Linked DNA regions of Homo sapiens. The protein of the gene in region 1 purifies or fractionates together with the protein of each later gene. This does not show direct contact. Each region holds a gene or a part of one and is shown on either strand. Other genes may lie near its edges.

Region 1 (5,490 bases):
AGCACCAAGAGCATCCCATCCTCTCTAGATCTTGCTTCCCTTGCCTCCTTGACACCTTCCAGAGTCAGGAAAAAGTACCTGCAGTTTGTAGTGAGAATCCAGATTGGCTTTCACTGCTACATGGCTCTGGCAAGTCACTTTCCCTCTCTGGCCTGTTTCCTCACCTGTACACTGGGGGAACAGGAGGGGAGTTGGGGGCACAGGCTGAGCAGATGATGGCTTCTGGGATTCGCGACAGGAAGGATCTCCCCTGTGTCTGTCTAGATGAACAGAATCTTGCTGAGAGCTTGTTCATCCCTAATGGCAATGGTGATGATGGTGATGATGATGCTGATGGTGCCATTAGATGAGTATTTTAAAACTCTTTTTTTAACTTTTCTGAGATGTTAGAGAAAAAGCCAAAAAAAGGCTTTGAGTTTCAGAAGATCTGAGATATGCCTGGACCAAGAGAAGAACCAGAGGAAGGTCACAGCCACAGCCACAGAAGGTAGCAAGCACTCCCCACTGGGGACCAGGAGTGTCAGAGGGGGCAGAGAGAAATTATTGTTTACATGAACCAAGGGAGACCGAAACCTGCTCATCTGTAGCCATTTGGTAAGGAAGTACCTGCAGCCAGGTCAGCTGAACTCCCATATCAGAGATCTTAGGCCCTACGGCACTCTACGGTGACCTGACTGACCCTAGCTCAGAATTTTCAGGCTAGGTGAATGGATGCCTGGAGAGGACATTCCACCCCAAGCTGAGGCACTGGACCAGGTGACCTTCTGATCCTGCAAGCCATCAGTTCAAGCCATCAGCTCTCAGCCAATGTTTCCCAAGCATCCGACACCCAGGGGATTCAAAGATGGATGAGAGTGAGAGGTGAGACTTGGGGTAGGAGGCCCAGTGGGAGGTGATGACAGCATCCTGGGAAAGATGACGAGGCCTAAGCCAGAAAGATGGACCATGAGAGAAGCCTAGGCCACAGGATGGGCTGGGCCAGCTGCCTGGGGGATAGGTGGGAGCCACAGGAAGCCCCCAGGGCACAGCCTGTGGCTGGGTGGTGGTGTCACCCTAAACAGAGACAGACAGGCAGGAGGAGGGTGTTTGGAGAAGAGCAGGGAGTCGTCTCAGGCAGCTTTGGAGTTGAGACACCCATGGACCCTCAGGGAGGTGTTGGGGGAGATCCAGGTCATGGGTTTTGGGCTCAGGATCCCATCAATGCCAATTTTGTGTCATCACGGAGCAGGATGGAGACCTGGGACCTGAGAGATTGGAAGGACATTTATGCATTCATGCATTCACTCATGCTACAGACATTTATTGAGTACCTACTGTGTGTTCGGCACTATTCTAGGCCCTGGGAACCCAGAAGTGAGCAAAAGAGACATGGCGCCTGCCCTCTGGGAGCTCACACACCAAAAGAAATGTTTTTAAGAACATTAGGTAGGGATAAGTTCTAAGAAAAAAAAACACAACAAAGCCAGCAGAGGGACAAAGGGTGGAAGAGGAAGGTGGTTATTTCGTACGGGGAGGACAAGGAGGGCCTCTGGGGAGATGGCGCTGGAGAGGATAGGAGGCTGGGGTAAGCAAAGTGGGAGTCTGGGAGAGGGAACTCCAGGGAGTAAGGGTTCTTGCTTTTATTCGGATGCATGGTTAGCCCTGGGAGGAGGGAGAGGATGTAACTTAGGTTTTGATGGGGATTCTTTGGTCTGCTGCATGGAGAACAGGAGGTGGGGGCCGAGTGTTAGCAGGGAGCCAGGGGGGCAGCCAGGACAGCTATCCTGCCTGGAGCCAGAGGTGGTTGTCAAGCTTGTCTGCTGTTTAATACCTTCTAAAACTCCAGGAATTAGTTCGCATCCTTCATTCCTCAGTCATCGCCCAGACTGTCTCCTGGGTCCCTCTCCCTTTCCTTGGTAGCTCTCACTTAGGGACTCTGAAGAGTCCCATCTCAGACCCCCCAGGATGTCTCCTGTACCCTCATGCCCCGCCAGGGCCAAGCCTGCTTTGCACACCTCTGTAGTCAGTGCTTCTCCGAGGGTACACAATAGGTGCTCACACTGCTGAAAGACGAAAGCATGACAGGGCATTCTACAGCAGCCCTGGTCTTGGGCCAAAACCACAGTGGCATCCTCAGCTCCTTGCTTCCTCCCACTCCGCATCCAATTCACCAGCAGAGCTGATGGGCTCTACCTCCAGAACCCACCAGAATCTTACTGGCCACACCCCCTCCTAGCCCCGTTCTGCTCCAGGCCTCCGGTACCTTGCACCTGATGGCTGCAGCGGCCACCTCTTTGGGCTTCTTCCTTCCACCCTGCCTCCTACAGTCTATGCTGTTGAAATCGAATCACGGGTGTCTGTCTCTGCTCACAACCTTGCAGTGGCTCCCATGACACTCAGAACAAAAGCTGAAGTCCTTCCAGTGGCCCCCCCCCCAGCTGCATGGCCTGCCCTGCTGTCACCTCTCAGACCTCCCCGCACCCTTGCTCCCTCTCCTCTGCTCCAGCTACACAGGCCTTCGCCCCATGGTTCTCCAGGCACACACCGCTGCGGATGCATTCCCTCCTCACGGTCAAAATACATGCAGCTCCCTTTGCAGAACGTTCCCTCAAATACCTGCCTGGCCCACTCTATCATTTCCCTTGTTCTCTGGGTTCAAATGTCACCTCCTCTGAGAAGTACTCTCTAATGATCTGACCTCAAGCAGCCACCCAGGGCCGCCACTTGCCCTCTTTCTTCTTCATTTTGCTTCACCATCTGACATAGTAGATTATCTCTTACTGCCTCTTTCCCCTACTAGTCCAGAGGGAGACATACTATACTGTCGTATCCCCAGCACCCAGGAAGGCTTGGTCCGTTCAGCCCTTGGTCAGGGCTGAATGGATTTCTGTTGGATGAATGAAGGGACGGCAGTTAAAGAGCCAGGTTGCCAGCTGACATTGCCCAATCTTGCTGTGTGGCCTCAGACCCACCCCTGCCCCTCTTTGTGCAGCTCAGAGACAGCCCTCTGTGCTCAGGGAAGGCCTCTTGGATGGACACTCCACCTGCTGATTGTGACAGACCCCAAAGCCGCCCTCTGCCCCCTGCAAACCTCCCATGCCCCGTACCTTCTTCAGCCACTGCGTGTTGTTCTGCAGTGCCTGCTCCAGCTGTTTCACCTGCTGGGTGGGCAACTTCCCCAGGTGCAGTGGGTTGGCCAGTGATTCTCTCTGGAGGGTGTTGGAGTCCCTGGAGACCTCAGGCCCCGGAGGGCAGGGCTCAGACTTGGGCAGCAAGAAGGTGTAGCTACAGTGGCCGTGCTGGACTACAAGTGTCTCGCAGCCCCTATCCGCCTCCTGCCTTGTCTGTTGAGCCACAGACATGGTGGCAACCACAAGGAGGAGGCTGCCCTGCAGCATGGCTAGCTGGGAGAGCATCTGAAGATGTGTCAATGGCGAGGGATGTCTGCTCAGAGCCCTAGGGGCTGTGCCTGGGATGTCCTGCTGCAGCCAACAGTGGCCAGGCTTGCCTGCAGCTGCAGCTACAAACCTCTGTCTGGCCGAGCTCTGTCCAGGCAGCTATTTATACTTGCTCTGAATACCACGGCTGCTCTGCTTGCTTCCTCTCACCGCCTCCCTCCGGCCCCACCCGACACCCTCTCACCTCTATTCTTCACTCCTTCCCTTCCTCCTTCCTCAGTCTTGGTGGCACGTCGCCCTTACCCTAAGCGTGCACCAACCTTGCTCTGTCTGCCTCACCTCTGAGCCCTCTGATTATCCAGTGAGGCCTGGCTTCCCTGCTGGAGGGGAGGGAAGAAAACAGCACACAGACACGCGCACACACTCATGCACACACTCACGAGCACACACTCACACGCACGCTGACACGCACACACATTCATGTACACACAAACGCCAAGCTCCAATGCTGCCCGCTTTGGAAAACCAAATGCAACTTAACTCTCCCTTCCTGTCTCTGTCTTGGTCTCCCTCTTTCCCTCCACCCCCATCCCCTGCCCCCCAAGTCTAAGATCTCAAGTTTCAGTCCCGCTGCCATCCCCTTCTCTCCCCGCTGCACCTTCCTCCCTCTGGTTCCATGTTAGCGCTTGGAGTACAAGTGACCCCCGGAGAGAGCAGAGGGAGGGGAGGAGGCAGAGGGGTGAGGCTGGGGAGGGCCCAGCGAATCCACTTTGCCTCTGGAGACACAGAAAATCCTTCCAAGGTGGGGCAAGTGAGCAACCCAGCTGGGAGTTGCTTCCTGTCCTCTCTTCTCCCTCAGGGCCAGGGGAAAGTGGTATGCCCCAGGATGGCCCTGGCTTGGTTGCTTGTAACAGTAATGAGAAGTTGTCATGTCCTGGGGCAGATTGTCCTGGGGCTGCTGGAGTGGGGATGTGGAGAGGAGGCAGTGGGGAGAGGAGGTTGGAGTGCCAGGAGGCTAACCCTAGATCTCGCTCCCCGACAGCTGGCCACGAGACCTAGGGTGGGCAGCTGTGCCTCTCTGGGCCTCCACACCCTGATCTGTAAACTGGGTAAACCTTATCTCTTGCAGGAGGAATGCGTGTGAGTCCTCAGCATGGGGATGGAGAAGTTTTCAGCTTCTGGGTTCAAATCCTGGCTCTACCATCTACCAGCTGTATGACTTTGAGTAAGTCACTTAACCTCTCTGTGCCTTCATTTCCTCCTGAATGAGGAAAATAATACCACCTACTTCACATGGCATGAAAATTAGGTGAGTTAGAGCAAGGTTGGCACAGAGCGAGCACTAAATAAATATTTTCCGTTGTCAATGTTATAGTTGTCATTGCACCTCCCCTCCCACGACCCACTGGAGCATAAACTCCTCTAGGGCAGGGATTTGTCCCTGGGGGACATGGTCTCCAGGCAGAAGGTGCCCAGGAGTTGGTGGGGCCTTTCCTGCATGGGCTGCCTTTATGTTCTGCCAGCTGTTTGGGCTTTTCCTCTCTCCCTGCTTGTTTCCTCAGAGTAGGGGCCAGTCTGGCTGTTTAGTATTTTCCTTTTTGTTCTCTCAAATCCCGATAGAGTTTTGAATTGGGGCAGGCTGCTTCTGGGCAGCTGTGAACTGTGGTCTCATCTGGGGACTGAGAACATTATACCAGGTGTGGGGCTTTTGCAGGCAAAGGAAAAGCAGCTGGTTATCAGCCTCCAGCCTCCCCTGAGCCTTCCCACATGCTCTGAGCTCTGCGTGCCCCGCTTGGCCCCAGTTGCCTCAGCTGTAAATGGGGTCATAGCACCCTGACCATGTGAGAGTAATGTGGACTGATAGCTTATCACAGCTCTGGGTGCAGAGAAGGGCAGTGTGAATGGTGGTCGTCATTATGATTGTCTTGACTGAGCTGCTTGATAATCCCAACGAGGCAGTTACACCAGGCCCCAAGCTTAGATGGGCCCCATGCTTGGTTTACACTCTGCCAGCACTGTCTTGAAATTCTTAATACATTTGGAACAAAGTACTCAGCACTTGCATTCTTCATTGAGTTCCACAAATTAGGTAGCAGGCCCTGCCTGGGAAACA
Region 2 (4,280 bases), on another chromosome or scaffold:
TGAAATTGTAAAGAAGGAAAAAGAAATTTGTGCCAGTTTTGCTGTCACACCTCGAACTGCAAAAGGTACCGCCACAGCGCACGCTAAGTGCTTAGTTAAGATAGAAAAGGCATTGAATGTGTGGGTGGGAGACATGAACAGAAACACGTTCCAGTTGACAGCAACTGGACCCAAGCTATCAGGAGGTCAGTGCTATCTTTGGTTTCAGGCATCCACTGTGGGTCTTGGAACACATGCCCTGAAGATAAGGGGGGACTACGTATGAATCTCCCATGTGGGCCTGAAGAGAGGCTGAGACGCAGAGAAGGCTCCATGCCTCTCCCAAAGTCAGAGCGTCGGGAAAGGACCACCTCACCAGGCCAGGAGAGCTCACGGGGGTCCCGTCCATCCCTCCTCCCACAGCAACAGCAACCTCCATTCTGTGGTTCCACAAATCCTTCTTCCTTTGTTTGTATTTTTGAGACGGAGTCTTGCTCTGTCGCCCAGGCTGGAGTGCAGTGGTGCGATCTCGGCTCACTGCAAGCTCCGCCTCCCGGGTTCACGCCATTCTCCTGCCTCAGCCTCCCGAGTAGCTGGGACTACAGGTGCCTGCCACCACGGCCAGCTAATTTTTTTTTTTTGTATTTTTCGTAGAGACGGGGTTTCACCGTGTTAGCCAGGATGGTCTCGATCTCCTGACCTCGTGATCTTCCCGCCTCGGCCTCCCAAAGTGCTGGGATTACAGGCGTGAGCCACCGCGCCCGGCCTCCACAAATCCTTCTTGCAGCTCCTAAAGCCTAGAGTTTGAGCTAAAGCACCAGCTCCACTTGCCTCTAGGTACCTCTAGAAGGTACTTCAAGGCTTGGGAAAAAGCATGGAGATTTCTCTGTTATCTCAAAGGCTGAGTGGAAGAAACAGGAAAGTCCCAGTCCATCTCTGAGTGCCATGGCACTGATAGTGTTAATAATAATAAAACAGTCCCCACTATGCTACACTCGCTATGAGCCAGACACTGCCCTAAGCTCTATATATGCATTATTTCATCTGATCTTCTAAACAACCCTATAGGTGAGGTATTATTAAATTCCTCATTTTACAAATAAAAAGGCCCGGCACAGTGGCTCATGCCTGTAATCCCAACACTTTGTGGGGCCGAGTTAGGAGGACTGCTTGAATCCAGAAGTTTGAGGGCAGCCTGGAAAACATAGTGACACCCTGTTCTCTGTAAAAAAAATCAAAAAATTAGCCGGGCGTGGTAGCACACGCCTGTGGTCCCAGCTACTTGGGAGGCTGAGGTAGGAGGATTGCTTGGATCCAGAAGATCACGGCTGCAGTGGGCCTGGAGTGACAGAGCAAGACCCTGTCTCAAAAAAAGAAAGAAAGAAAGAAAGAAAGAAAAAGAAACAGGTGTAGGGCTGGACACATGGCTCATGTCTCTAATTCTAGTACTTTGGGAGGCCGAGGCAGGAGGATCACTTAAGCCCAAGAGTTTAAGACCTGCCTGGGAAACACAGGGAGACACCATCTCTACAAAAAAATACAAATAAAAATTAGCTGGGTATGGTGGCACACACCTGTGGGCCCAGCTACTCAGAAGGCTGGGGTGGGAGGATCACTCCAGCCTAGGCAACAGAGTGAAACAGAGTGAGACCTTGTCTCAAAAAAGAAAGGACAGAAAGACAAGGGAGAGAGGGAGGGAGGGATAGAGGGGGAGGGGAAGAGAGAGAGAGAGAGAAAGGAAGGAAGGAAGGAAGGAAAGAAAGGAAAGGAAAGGAAAGGAAAGGAGGGGCTCAGAGGGAACAAGTAACTTATTACAAGTTCAGGGTGGTTGTAAGTAACAGAGCTGAGATTTGAACCGATATCTGTCTGTTTCCAGAGCCTGAGGTCTTCAGAGCCCACCAGGAGGACTATAGCTGAGAGATCACTCCTCCTCCCAAGACCTTGGTCTCTAGGGTCCTGCAGCAGGGATGAGGCCACTGCGCCTGCAGCCCCACTCAAAACCCTCTGGGACACCACGCCCCTGGCTTCCGCTCCTGCCCTTACCTCTATCTGGTCAATGGTCTCCTGATACTCCTTCTCCCGGGTTTTGAACAGGGACTCCGTATCTTTAATCACCTTCTCCAGGCTATCTTCCTGCTGCTGGAGTAGAAAGGGAAGCGGGGGAGGCCAGCCAAGGAGGGATGGGATGGGACGCATTCCAAAGGGCCAAGTCAGGGAGAGAGAGAGAGAGGAAGTCTGGTTAAAGAAACTGGAGAAAGAAAAGCAAAAGGATAAAGGAAGAGGGGAGACGCAGGTAGAGGATGACAGCCACATGGGGGGACAGAGCAAGGAGAGGAGCGGGGGAGTGGGCTTCAGGCTGGAGAGGCAGAGCCAGAGGGCCCTGAGGCCGGGAGCAGAGGTTACCTCTCCCTGGGCCTCTGCAGCTGCCATGGCATAGCCTGAGAAATCCTCCCAAAGCAGCAGGGTCTCCTCAGTCTCCTCCCAAGTCAGGCTGTCACAGTCGTCCTCAAAATCATACTCCCTCCTAGAGACAGGGAACCCGGGTGTCAGGGCGGGCGGGGCCTCGTCCTGGCGGGGGACTGGGGAGCTCCGGCCTCCTGGGCTGCTGTGGCGTCGGTGCTGCGGGAGCACGGCCTGCGGACTCACAGCTGGTTGAGCATGCGCTGCATCTCCTCGTTGATGCTGAGGGCTGTGCTCTCCTCCTCATCCCCATCGGGCTGGCGGGGCCCCTCACTCTCCGACAGGGAGGTGTCCTCCTCGACGGCAGCCTTGCGCTCCCGCTTCCGCCCCCCCATGGATGGGACCTTAATGGGAGACAAGTGCAGAGACTACAGAGACGAGGCCGGGTGCATGAGGAGAAAGGGCGGGAGCGGGAGGCCGGGCAGAGAGGGTGGGAATGGGGGAGAAGCATGAACCAGTAGGAAGGGGGGGCAGACAGAGAGAAAAGTCACAGTTACAATGACAGGAACAGAAACACGGACAGTCACCAAGGGCCAGACACACAGCGGGGGTCAGGGCTGCAAACCGAGAAGGCAGAACAAGAAGAAATCGAGAAGAAGAGCAGTCAGACAAGGAAGGAAGGGCTCGCTGGGGCTGCAGTCAGATGTGCATGATGGCTCAAGAGGAAATTTTTTTCTAAAAAAAGTCTTTTTGATTAAATGACTCAACTAAAAAAAAAAAAGCTTTAGGACGCAAGGAGGATGAGTGTGCAATGTGTACAAAAGAGAACCTGAATCACATCCAGATCTGGAAAGCCGGGGGAGAAGGGAGAGAAAGAAATGCAGTCAAGAGAACAAGAGATAGAGAGAAAAAGGGGGAAGAGCAAGGAAAAGGGAAAGGGCAGAAAAAAATCCGTGCTCAAGAGCCCAGCGGGCCCAAACTGAGGGCCAGGAGGCCTAGGCAGCTTAGAAACTGGGACTGGGACATTAATAAGCTTGCGTGAGATCAAACTAACCAGCTTCTTCTGTGGAGGAAGCAAGAGAGAAGATGAGAGGAAGAGAGGAGAGGAAGCAGACAGAGGAGAGAGAGGGGGAAGGGAGAGACGGCGTTAGAGACAGCTTCCACGATGCCCCTCCTGATGCTGCTCCTTACCCCCCAGTCTAGCCCCGTGAGGGCCCCAGTTGCCAGGTAAGGCTCCCCAAGCAGGAGGCAGGGCCTGCGTTCCAGGCCAGCCGCCACGGAAGCATCCACCTGCCCCACCCACCCCTGAGAGCAGAGGGCAGCTCCGTCCTCACCTGGAACATCTGGATCATGTCCTCGCAGTTGCGCTGCTGAGCCACATCGCAGAGCTTGGCGGTGATGTCGATGCGGCGGCAGATGTCCATATCCACCTTCATGGCTTTCTCCTGGATCTTGGTGTCCAGCTCCGACAGGTTCTGTCCAGGGAGCCCAGGGAACAGTGAGGAGGCGCCCAGTTCTCCAGACAAGGACGAATTAGGCCTGGCAAGGTCCTCATCCTTCCCACCACATTGCACCGGTGCCTCTTCTGTGGAGTCTCCCTGAGCTGACTGCACCCCTCTTCCTGGGTAGCGGTGGCCTCCCCACAGCACTGTGTGAATATGCTGGGCATGGGGCGGCTCGGGCCACTGCTCCCTGGCCAAACGGAAGCCCTGGAGGGCATGGCCAGTGCCTGGGACATGCAGGGGGCTCACTGGAACGACTAGCGGTCCTCATCCTCCTAGAACTTACATTCCCAGAGAGAAAGAGACTCCTGGGAATTATAAGAGTGGAGAAAGGACTATAATAATCGCAACAGCTAACACTCTTCCAGCTAACACTGCATGCTGGGCACTGTCCCGAGT
Region 3 (4,280 bases), on another chromosome or scaffold:
GCATCTAAATCCTACTCATTTTTCAAGGAAGACCCATATGAAATGCCTCGTCTTCTCCAAAACCTTCTCGAGTTCCCCAGTCAAAATGAATTACAATACCCCAACCACAGACTCCACAGGGAGATTTATTATAGCACTCAAGTTATCCCATCTAATGATGGAATTTTGAATTGATATCCTCCCTTCCTTCCTCCCTTCCTTCCTTCCTTCCCCCCTCCCTCCCTCCCTCCCTTCCTCTCTTCCTCTCTTCCTCCCTTCTTCCTTTCCTTCCGCCATTGGTGTGGCAGTCTTGGTAAGCTCCTCTGTTACCTGGCTTGGGGATTGACTCAGAACCAGTGCTTACTCAAGACCAAGGCACAGGACAACTGGAACCTCTGGGACTTGTGGATGGGCAAATTAAGCCAAACAATGCTGGCCACAGGAGAGACTGAAAAGGTGTTGGCATTTGGTATTGAGATGTAAGAAAGTTATCAGAATGAACTGTTATAAGAAATCTACTTTGCTGACAGTAGCTTTGTTTCCAGTTGAGCAAATAAATATTACATGGAAGAATGCTTAGTACTTAGGCAATATTCTCACCAGACTGGAGTAAGCAGGAAAAACTAGCTCCTTTGTGTTCATTCAGTGACATTTACTGAGCATAAATCTGGGCCATAATCAGGGCTGGGCTATCCTTTGGTGGCCCATCACTTAGGATAAATAAGACCCATCAGAAGGATCTTCTAATCAAAGTCAATAGCTCTGATCTCTCCCTTGAGTTCCAGACTCACATATCTAACTGCCCATTTAACTTACACCCTTGCATGTATCACTGGCATCTCAAACAGGCCCTCAACTCCAGCCCCACCCCTAAACATTTTTATTTCCCAGTCTTCCCCATCTCAGTAAATGCCTCACTATGCTGAAATCTGGAAGCCATTCTTTATTCCTCTTTTTATGTGACCCTCTCCATCCACACCATTAGCATAGTGGTTATTATACTTGACCATGCAGGAGGTTACACCTAAAGGGCTTTTAAATCATTGATTGCTGAGCCCCATTTCCAGGGTCTCTGATTCAGTAGATATGGAGTGGGGCCTGAGAATTTACATTTCTAACAAGTTCCCAGGCAATGCTGCTGCTGGTGGTGCAGGGACTACATGTGGAGAACAACTGCATTAGTAAGACCTGGCCAGTTATACCTATACAATATAATCTGGAATTGTCCACTTCTCATCATCCCCTCAACTTATTAACAAATACCAGCACTTTTCCATCAATCTCCAGTAAACAGTATCTTTTCACCTAATTTTCCCATCTTCAAGGCCTACAGGTCCCAGCTGTCCTACCCTGCTTTTTGAGTGTGCATTGGGGCTGAGTCACCTCTGAAACTGGGTGACAGATGAGCCTGCCAAGTTTGTCCCAGCAATGGATGATCCATGGCCCTAGAACTTCTCCTTCTTTGCACCTGTCCTCTTCCATATTTGCCAGAAAGAAATCATTGAAAAGAAGGTATCCAGCTGAATGTTTTATAGTCTTGGCTCAGGAGACTGTCTGGAGAACCTGTGGCCTAGCAGTCTGCTATGATTTGAATGTACCCCAAATTTCATGTGTTGAAACATAATCCTACCATTTTGATGGTATTAAGAGGAGAGACCTTTCGGGAAGTAATTAAGTCATGAAGCCTCTGCCATTATGAATGGATTAGTGCCTTAGAAAATGACTTGGAATGAGTTTAGACCCTTTTTTGTACTTCTGTGATTCCACCATATGAAGACACAACATTCACTCCCTCTTGAAAATGCAGCAACAAGGTGCCATCTTGGAAGGAGAGACCAAGCCCCTCACCAGACACCAAATCTGTTGGCACATTGATCTTAAACTTCCTAGCCTTCGGACCTGGGAGAAATAAATTTTTGTTCTTTACAAATTACCCAGTCTGTGGTATTGTGTTATAGAAGCACAAACAGACTAGGACAGGAGCTCAGGAATACTGGTCCAAAAGTTACCTAAGACTGTCATCCTGGTGACTGTAGAAACCCTAAAGTACCCTGAAAACCCTGTGGTTTCCCTGTGGTTCACGAGTCATACTAGCTGTGCTTTAGCCTCTTGGAAAAATCTCATTAGGAAATTTTATATATAAAATTGCATCTTTAATGATCTGGATGGCTTCCTCACTTGTAGGGCCAAACATTCCACAGATTTCATCTCATTGAAGCATCCAACAATTCCATGCAAGGCTACACTGAGTCCTACTTTCCAGGTAGAATTTCCAAGGTGCCAAGAGATTCCATGAAGTGCACTATTTCACCCTGAAAATTGATGACTGAGCCAGGACAAGAATTCACCCTACTGGCCTGGTTTTTATGGCTTTAAATCCATCATATGATGAAAGTTCCTTGTTGTGATGGAAAGGTGATCAGATTTACAACGCTGGATTTTCCACTTCCTGAATTTGTCTTCTTGGGCAAGTCACTTTACTTCTCTCAGCCTCAAATTCTTCATGTGTGAAAATAAAGTGAAACATACCTGCCGATATGGTTCTTATGAAGATTAAATTTTGATAGCATAAAAAGTGCCTAATACAGTTGCTGGAACATAGTAGGCACCACAAATATAATAGCTATTGTTATTAAATAAAGCCTTTCTTAACAGACGGTTGCTTTCAGTTCCTGTCACTTAGATAGATTCTTAATAAATATGAACCAAATGAATGAAATCCTTGCCACCCATGGTAATGTCTTTTCTTCTCTGAGGCTACTGATGCTATAATCACTCCCCTGGATTTACTACCTACCATTCAGTAGTTTCTCATTCCAAATGTAATGATTGAGCCCCGCTTATGGCCAAAGCAGAATGATAGGTGTTGTGGAGGTTAAAGAGAGAAATATGGCATAGTGCCACTGTCTAGAAAGCCCTCGTGTATATAATTACTCTGATTTCAAGTTGCTTCATGCATAAATCTGTACTTTTTAGAGGACCCAGAGGACCATGACTATGTGCCTTGTGCTAGTCCCTTTCCCATCCTGGACCTTTATTTATTCACCTCTGAAATAAAGAGGATAGATTTCATGGGTGACTTTGAAATAATGTTCTGACGAGCCCAGGGAATTCTAAGGAGGGTTTTAAAGGGCCACTGTGATAGAGTCAGGTGGTGGTTGAATTTGAGGACAGATTAATGACTCTGGGGGTCCCACTTCCACTTTAACCATAACAGTTATGATTTGTTCCATTTTCTATATTGGATCTCAATCAGTTATTTTATTTGAAGGAAGGGATCTTATCATTCATCCACAAGAACCAGCGCACTTCTGGATAAATGGTGCTTGCTTAATACAATTTTTAAGTCTGCTTGATTGATGGAAGTTTGTAAAGAGGGAATTTGGTATTGTGAGTACATCTAAGCAGTGACTGGCATGACACTCTTTGTAGATTAGAGAGAGGAAGGGCCTTTTATTTAGATTTAATCTTAGCTCAAACTTCTCAATTGCTGGACAGAGAATGGAAGGCTGGGAATTAGATGCAAATCCTGAAGACCATAGTAAAGGCAATCTACCTCAAATGCAACAAATTATTTATTTATTTATTTATTATTAAGCCATTAAGCTCCTTCTCATTTCTCCTGGCTGCCTTAATCAGCAAACTTTAAAAAAATCCATTCCCTCTACGTAAGCCTTTTGACAAGTCATTTATTTTTCTGGGAAAACATGAGCATGCTTAGAAGTTATGTTTAGTGGGAGTTGTAGGTTTAGATTTAATTCTGGGTGCAGTAAGAGGTCATTACAGGATAATTTGAGTTATATTTTATATACCATAGGAAACATCCATTTCAAGTGTACAATTCAGCATGTTTTAATAAATTTAAAGAGTTGTACAATCATCACCATAATATTTTAGAAAATTTCCATCATTCCAAAATTAGCTCTTTGTTCAGTTTCAGTTGATCTTTGTTCTTATCCACAGCCCCAGGAAACCTGTAATATATTTTCTGTCTAAATAGAGTGGCTTTTTCTTGATGCTGCATATAAATAGTTATACAAATGTGGCCTTTTGGGTCTGCCTTCAGTCACTTAGCTTATTGTTTTTGAGATTCATTCACATTGTAACATGTAACAGTATTTCATTCCTTTTTGTTGACAAATAATATCCCATTGCATGGATATCGCACATTTTGGGTGTTCACTCACAAGTTGAGGAGCATTTCAGTTATTTCCACTGTTTTGGCTCTTATGAATAATGCTGCTCTGCACATTTGTGTACAAGTCTTTTTGTGGAAAAATGTTTCCATTTCTACTGCTTAG
Region 4 (4,280 bases), on another chromosome or scaffold:
GTAGGTGTGCCATTCTCTAAGGTGTGCTCTCAGACATCTGTACCAGGAGAGGTGCAGCTGGAAGGACTGAAGTGTCAGAGTAATGATACTGTCTCCCCACCCCTGCCCCCAGCAATCCAAGCTGCTCATGGAGCAGATGCAGGCCCTGCAGGTGATGTATGACGCCGGTCAGGCGAAGCAGGAGCTCTTGCAGCAAGAGCAAGGGAGGCTCCTAGAGGAGCGGAAGAGGCTGCAGGCAGACTTGCAGCTCTGCCTGGAAGAAATGCAGCTGCTTCAAGTCCAGTCCCCTTCTATAAAAATGAGCCTTGAGTCCTACGGGAAGAGCTATGGTAGCATGGTCCCCAGCAATGAGAACTGTCGCAAGACTTATGATACCACTGTGGATGACAATGAGAGCTATTACAAGAGTTACACCAGCACCCAGACCAGCAGCAAGAGCTTTCTCAAGAGCTATGACAGCAGCACCAGTGCCAGTGAGGCCTATGGGAAGAGTTACTGCACTACCAGCAACAGCAGCATTACCTATAAGAAGAGTTACGGCAGCACCAGTAGCTCTGACACCTGCCAGAAGAGTTTTGTCAGCAGCTGCACTGACGAGGAACCTGCTGAGCCTGAAGACATGGAGGTAATGGTTGCCAGGTGACAGGTCAGGCAGGGGACGATGGACTCTTGTCTTTTTAAGAGATACATCGCCAGGGGAAGGGGCAAGAAGTGTGGGAATGGGGTCAGAACTGACCTGGGGAACTATTGGAAGTAAGCGAAGCCCTCTACCCATGGCAGCCTGGTCTCCCGCTCAGCCCTCTCATAGAGAGAATCCCCCATCTGGACAGAGGCCCATAAGATTCAGTCCGTTTCCTCACCACAGCCACGATGCTCTTTATGGGGGTAAATATAGTAATCCCCCGCGGGCATCTCTGGATCCTGGTGGCCATTGTTTGGTATCCAGGGAAGGGCCCAGCAGAGTAGGGCGGAGCTTAGGTGCTCCTCAGGGTGCTATTGTTGCTCCCCCACCCCCCGCAGCGCTTTGAGGAAATGGTTGTGAAAGTGCTGATCAAGCTGCAGGCGGTGCAGGCCATGTACCAGATAAGCCAGGAGGAACACAGCCAGCTGCAAGAGCAGATGGAAAAGTTACTGGCCAAGCAGAAAGACCTGAAGGAAGAGCTGGATGCCTGTGAAAGGGAGTTCAAGGAGTGCATGGAATGCCTTGAAAAGCCCATGGCCCCCCAGAACGACAAGAATGAGGTAACCACTGTCAGGGAGGCAGGGTTTCCTCTGGCAGCCCCTGGAGCCATAGAGGTCATGGCCACTTCATAGAGGCTAAAGAGAGGGACAAAGCAGGGAGAATATGCACCTCAGAGGCTGGGCAGTCTGCTCCATCCCTGATGACATTTCCCAAGTGCCCGTGGAGCTGGGGTTTACTAGTCATCAGGACTTCTCTCATCGAATGATTTCTCTCTTTCTCCCTTTGCCACTTCTGTTCTCTTTTGCTTTGTGTTCTAGACCACTTCTGTAGAACTGTATTTTTGCATTTGCCAATCTTCTTTCATCATTTTGTGTGCATTTGCCTTGTCTCCCGGTGCACCAACTAGGAGCACCAACTAGATTGCAAGCAGCTCAAGGACAGGGACATGTCTCCTTTTGGATCGCTCACAATGCCAAGAAGAGTGCTCTGCACCCCCTAGGAATGGGACAGAAGTCTTGTCTCTGGCCAGGGGTTCACGGTCCAGTGGGGGTCTCTTTGTATACACACGGGAGAGATTCAGAGAGCAGCGAACACATGGGTCCAGATTGGCTAGTATTGGTACCTACTGAGGGGATGGTTGTGTGCTGCCATCAGCCAAGGAAGACAAAACCCGAGATCAGGGAGCAGGATGTGACTTGCCTCTGTTTCCAGGGTGAGGTGCAGGAGCCCAGTACACACTTCAGGAGTGTACAACACAGTTCTTTAAGTAATTGTTCCTGTTAGAGAGATGGGTTGGATGAAGTAGGAGTTCCCATAAAAAGAATTCTAGGCCAGGTGCGGTGGCTCACCCCTGTAATCTCAGCACTTTGGGAGGCCGAGGCGGGTGGATCACTTGAGGTCAGGAGTTTGAGACCAGCCTGGCCAACTTGGAGAAACCCCATCTCTACTAAAAATACACAAAATTAGCTGGGCATGGTGGCGCATGCCTGTAATGCCAGCTACTCAAGAGGCTGAGGCAGGAAAACCGCTTGAATCCAGGAGGCGGAGGTTGCGGTGAGCCAAGATCATGCCATTGCACTCCAGCCTGGGCAACAAGAGTGAAACTCTTGTCTCAAAAAAAAGAATTATATAATAAATCCCTGAGGTTCAGAATTGGTAGCAGCCCTATTGTTATTCCCCAGTCACAGTAGAAAACACCATTTAAATCATTGTTTTGACCTTCTTTTTTTTTTTTGAGACAGAGTCTTGCTCTGTCACCAGGCTGGAGTGCAGTGGCACGATCTCAGCTTCCTGCAACCTCCGCCTCCTGGGTTCAAGTGATTCTCCTGTTTCAGCTTCCCAAGTTTCTGGGACTACAGGCGCGCTCCAATAAGCCCAGCGAATGTTTGTATTTTTAGTAGACATGGGGTTTCACCATGTTGGCCAGGCTGGTCTCGAACTCCTGACCTCAAGTGATCTGCCCACCTCAGCCTCTTGAAGTGCTGGGATTACACTGGATGGCAAGTGAGCCGCTGCGCCCTGCCGTTTTTTTCATCTTATTAGATGGACATCATCAGGTGCCTCAAGTTAGGAGAAGCTATTTGTAAAACTATTTGAGAGGCTCATTTTCCACCGTTGAATATTTTCTTTATTGTCTACTTCCTATGGGCTTTAACAGGGAGATTTCTGAGACAGTGACCCCCAAGCAGGGCTGAGTTTGGTTGCGTGGTCAGCCAACTGGTTGCATAACCAGCCAACTCTGGGTAACTGGCCCTCCACTACCAACAGATCAAAGAACTGCAGACCAAGCTGCGGGAGCTGCAGCTGCAATACCAGGCTAGCATGGATGAGCAGGGGCGGCTTCTGGTAGTGCAGGAGCAGCTGGAGGGGCAGCTGCAGTGCTGCCAGGAGGAGCTCCGCCAGCTCAGGGAGAAGAGGCCTTCTGTTGTCAAAGAAGCCCGGGGGAAGAATGCTAATAAGAACATGAACAAGAATGCCAATGGGGTTAAAATGAAAAAGGTGACCAAGCCATGCTCGGATACTTCTGAGAGCGACCTTGAGACCAGAAAGGTGAGTAGTAACCTTGGTAGCCAGATAAGCAGAAAGGAGGAGGAGATCCTGGGAAGAAGCATTGCCTCCACAACCCTTTCAACCAGGCAAGGGATTTGTAGAGAAGCTTCTGGGATCTCTGAAGTGTCTACAGTGGTTCCCATCTTAATGGAAAGTGGGTGCTCCCTTTTCCTGTGAAGTTATGGGGAGAGTGGAACACAGACAACTCACATCGGGAGGTGCAGCCCCAAAGGACCACAGCCCCTAGGCTGGACAACTCCTTCAGTTTGCCCAGCCCCATTTGTTGGGGCTCCTGTTCTTCCTGGGTTACATGCCCAAGAGAAGAACCAAATAGATGAAGAGGGAGGAATTTGTTCAAAGTAGTTATGTACTAATAAGTGAAAGAGGATTGGGTAAAAGAAGAGTCACTGTAGGGGTGGGAAGCAACAATTTAGGTGCAGAGCCCAAGACTCTTTAGTTGTGGTAGCTGTTTGAAATGGCTTAATGGCCAACAGACATAGTGGCCCTGAGAGGTGAGGTGTGATGCCCTCTACATATGCTCAGGGGATTGGCTCACAGTCCCAGAGCACCGGGCCACACCCTTGCACTCTGACATGCTGGAAGTCATGTTTCCTGGAGCTAGTACAGCATTGTCATGAGATTAGGAGCTTCACAGGTAACGCAGCCGCCATCCTGCCCTACTCCCACCCCACAGAGTCTGGAGGTAGTGCTGTACTACAAGGCCAGCCAGAGGAAATTAGATGGACTAGCAAAAGAGGAGGAAAAGAAAGAGGAGATGGAGGAGGAAAAAAAGCAAGTGAAAGAGGAAGCAAAGGAGCAGTGTGGGGATGAGCTAGTTGCTGAGCCAGCAGATCCTGAGGAAGCTAAATCCACAGAAGATCAGGAGGAAAATGAAGAGGACAAAGAGGAAGAGGAGAAGGAAGAAGACAGTGAAGAGGAGGAGGATGACGCCGACTCTTCCCTTGAAAGTCCCGAAGAAAATAACCCCCTCAGACTTTCCGAGAGCAAAAAGGTAACCAGAGCCAAAGCCTAGATCAAGTGGGAAGTG

The links. The genes of interacting proteins can lie anywhere in the genome.
Region 2: the proteins of ANGPT4 (region 1) and IFFO1 purify together in Homo sapiens (affinity purification with mass spectrometry; one large-scale study listed by BioGRID and IntAct). This does not show direct contact.
Region 3: the proteins of ANGPT4 (region 1) and ZC4H2 purify together in Homo sapiens (affinity purification with mass spectrometry; one large-scale study listed by BioGRID and IntAct). This does not show direct contact.
Region 4: the proteins of ANGPT4 (region 1) and CCDC136 purify together in Homo sapiens (affinity purification with mass spectrometry; one large-scale study listed by BioGRID and IntAct). This does not show direct contact.

Annotation. Positions count from the first base shown.
Region 1 is NC_000020.11:912,820-918,309, forward strand, and holds the start of ANGPT4 (angiopoietin-4 isoform 1 precursor), read right to left. Parts: upstream 3,516-5,490; 5' UTR 3,396-3,515; coding exon 3,087-3,395; intron 862-3,086; exon of another isoform or gene 620-861; intron 1-619. UniProt on the Homo sapiens protein: Binds to TEK/TIE2, modulating ANGPT1 signaling. Can induce tyrosine phosphorylation of TEK/TIE2. Promotes endothelial cell survival, migration and angiogenesis.
Region 2 is NC_000012.12:6,546,043-6,550,322, forward strand, and holds part of IFFO1 (non-homologous end joining factor IFFO1), read right to left. Parts: intron 3,855-4,280; coding exon 3,714-3,854; intron 3,443-3,713; coding exon 3,434-3,442; intron 2,808-3,433; coding exon 2,626-2,807; intron 2,504-2,625; coding exon 2,383-2,503; coding exon of another isoform or gene 2,119-2,382; coding exon 2,023-2,118; intron 1-2,022. UniProt on the Homo sapiens protein: Nuclear matrix protein involved in the immobilization of broken DNA ends and the suppression of chromosome translocation during DNA double-strand breaks (DSBs).
Region 3 is NC_000023.11:64,966,451-64,970,730, reverse strand, and holds part of ZC4H2 (zinc finger C4H2 domain-containing protein), read left to right. Parts: intron 1-4,280. UniProt on the Homo sapiens protein: Plays a role in interneurons differentiation. Involved in neuronal development and in neuromuscular junction formation.
Region 4 is NC_000007.14:128,811,688-128,815,967, forward strand, and holds part of CCDC136 (coiled-coil domain-containing protein 136), read left to right. Parts: intron 1-112; coding exon 113-625; intron 626-1,020; coding exon 1,021-1,242; intron 1,243-2,950; coding exon 2,951-3,232; intron 3,233-3,926; coding exon 3,927-4,244; intron 4,245-4,280. UniProt on the Homo sapiens protein: May play a role in acrosome formation in spermatogenesis and in fertilization.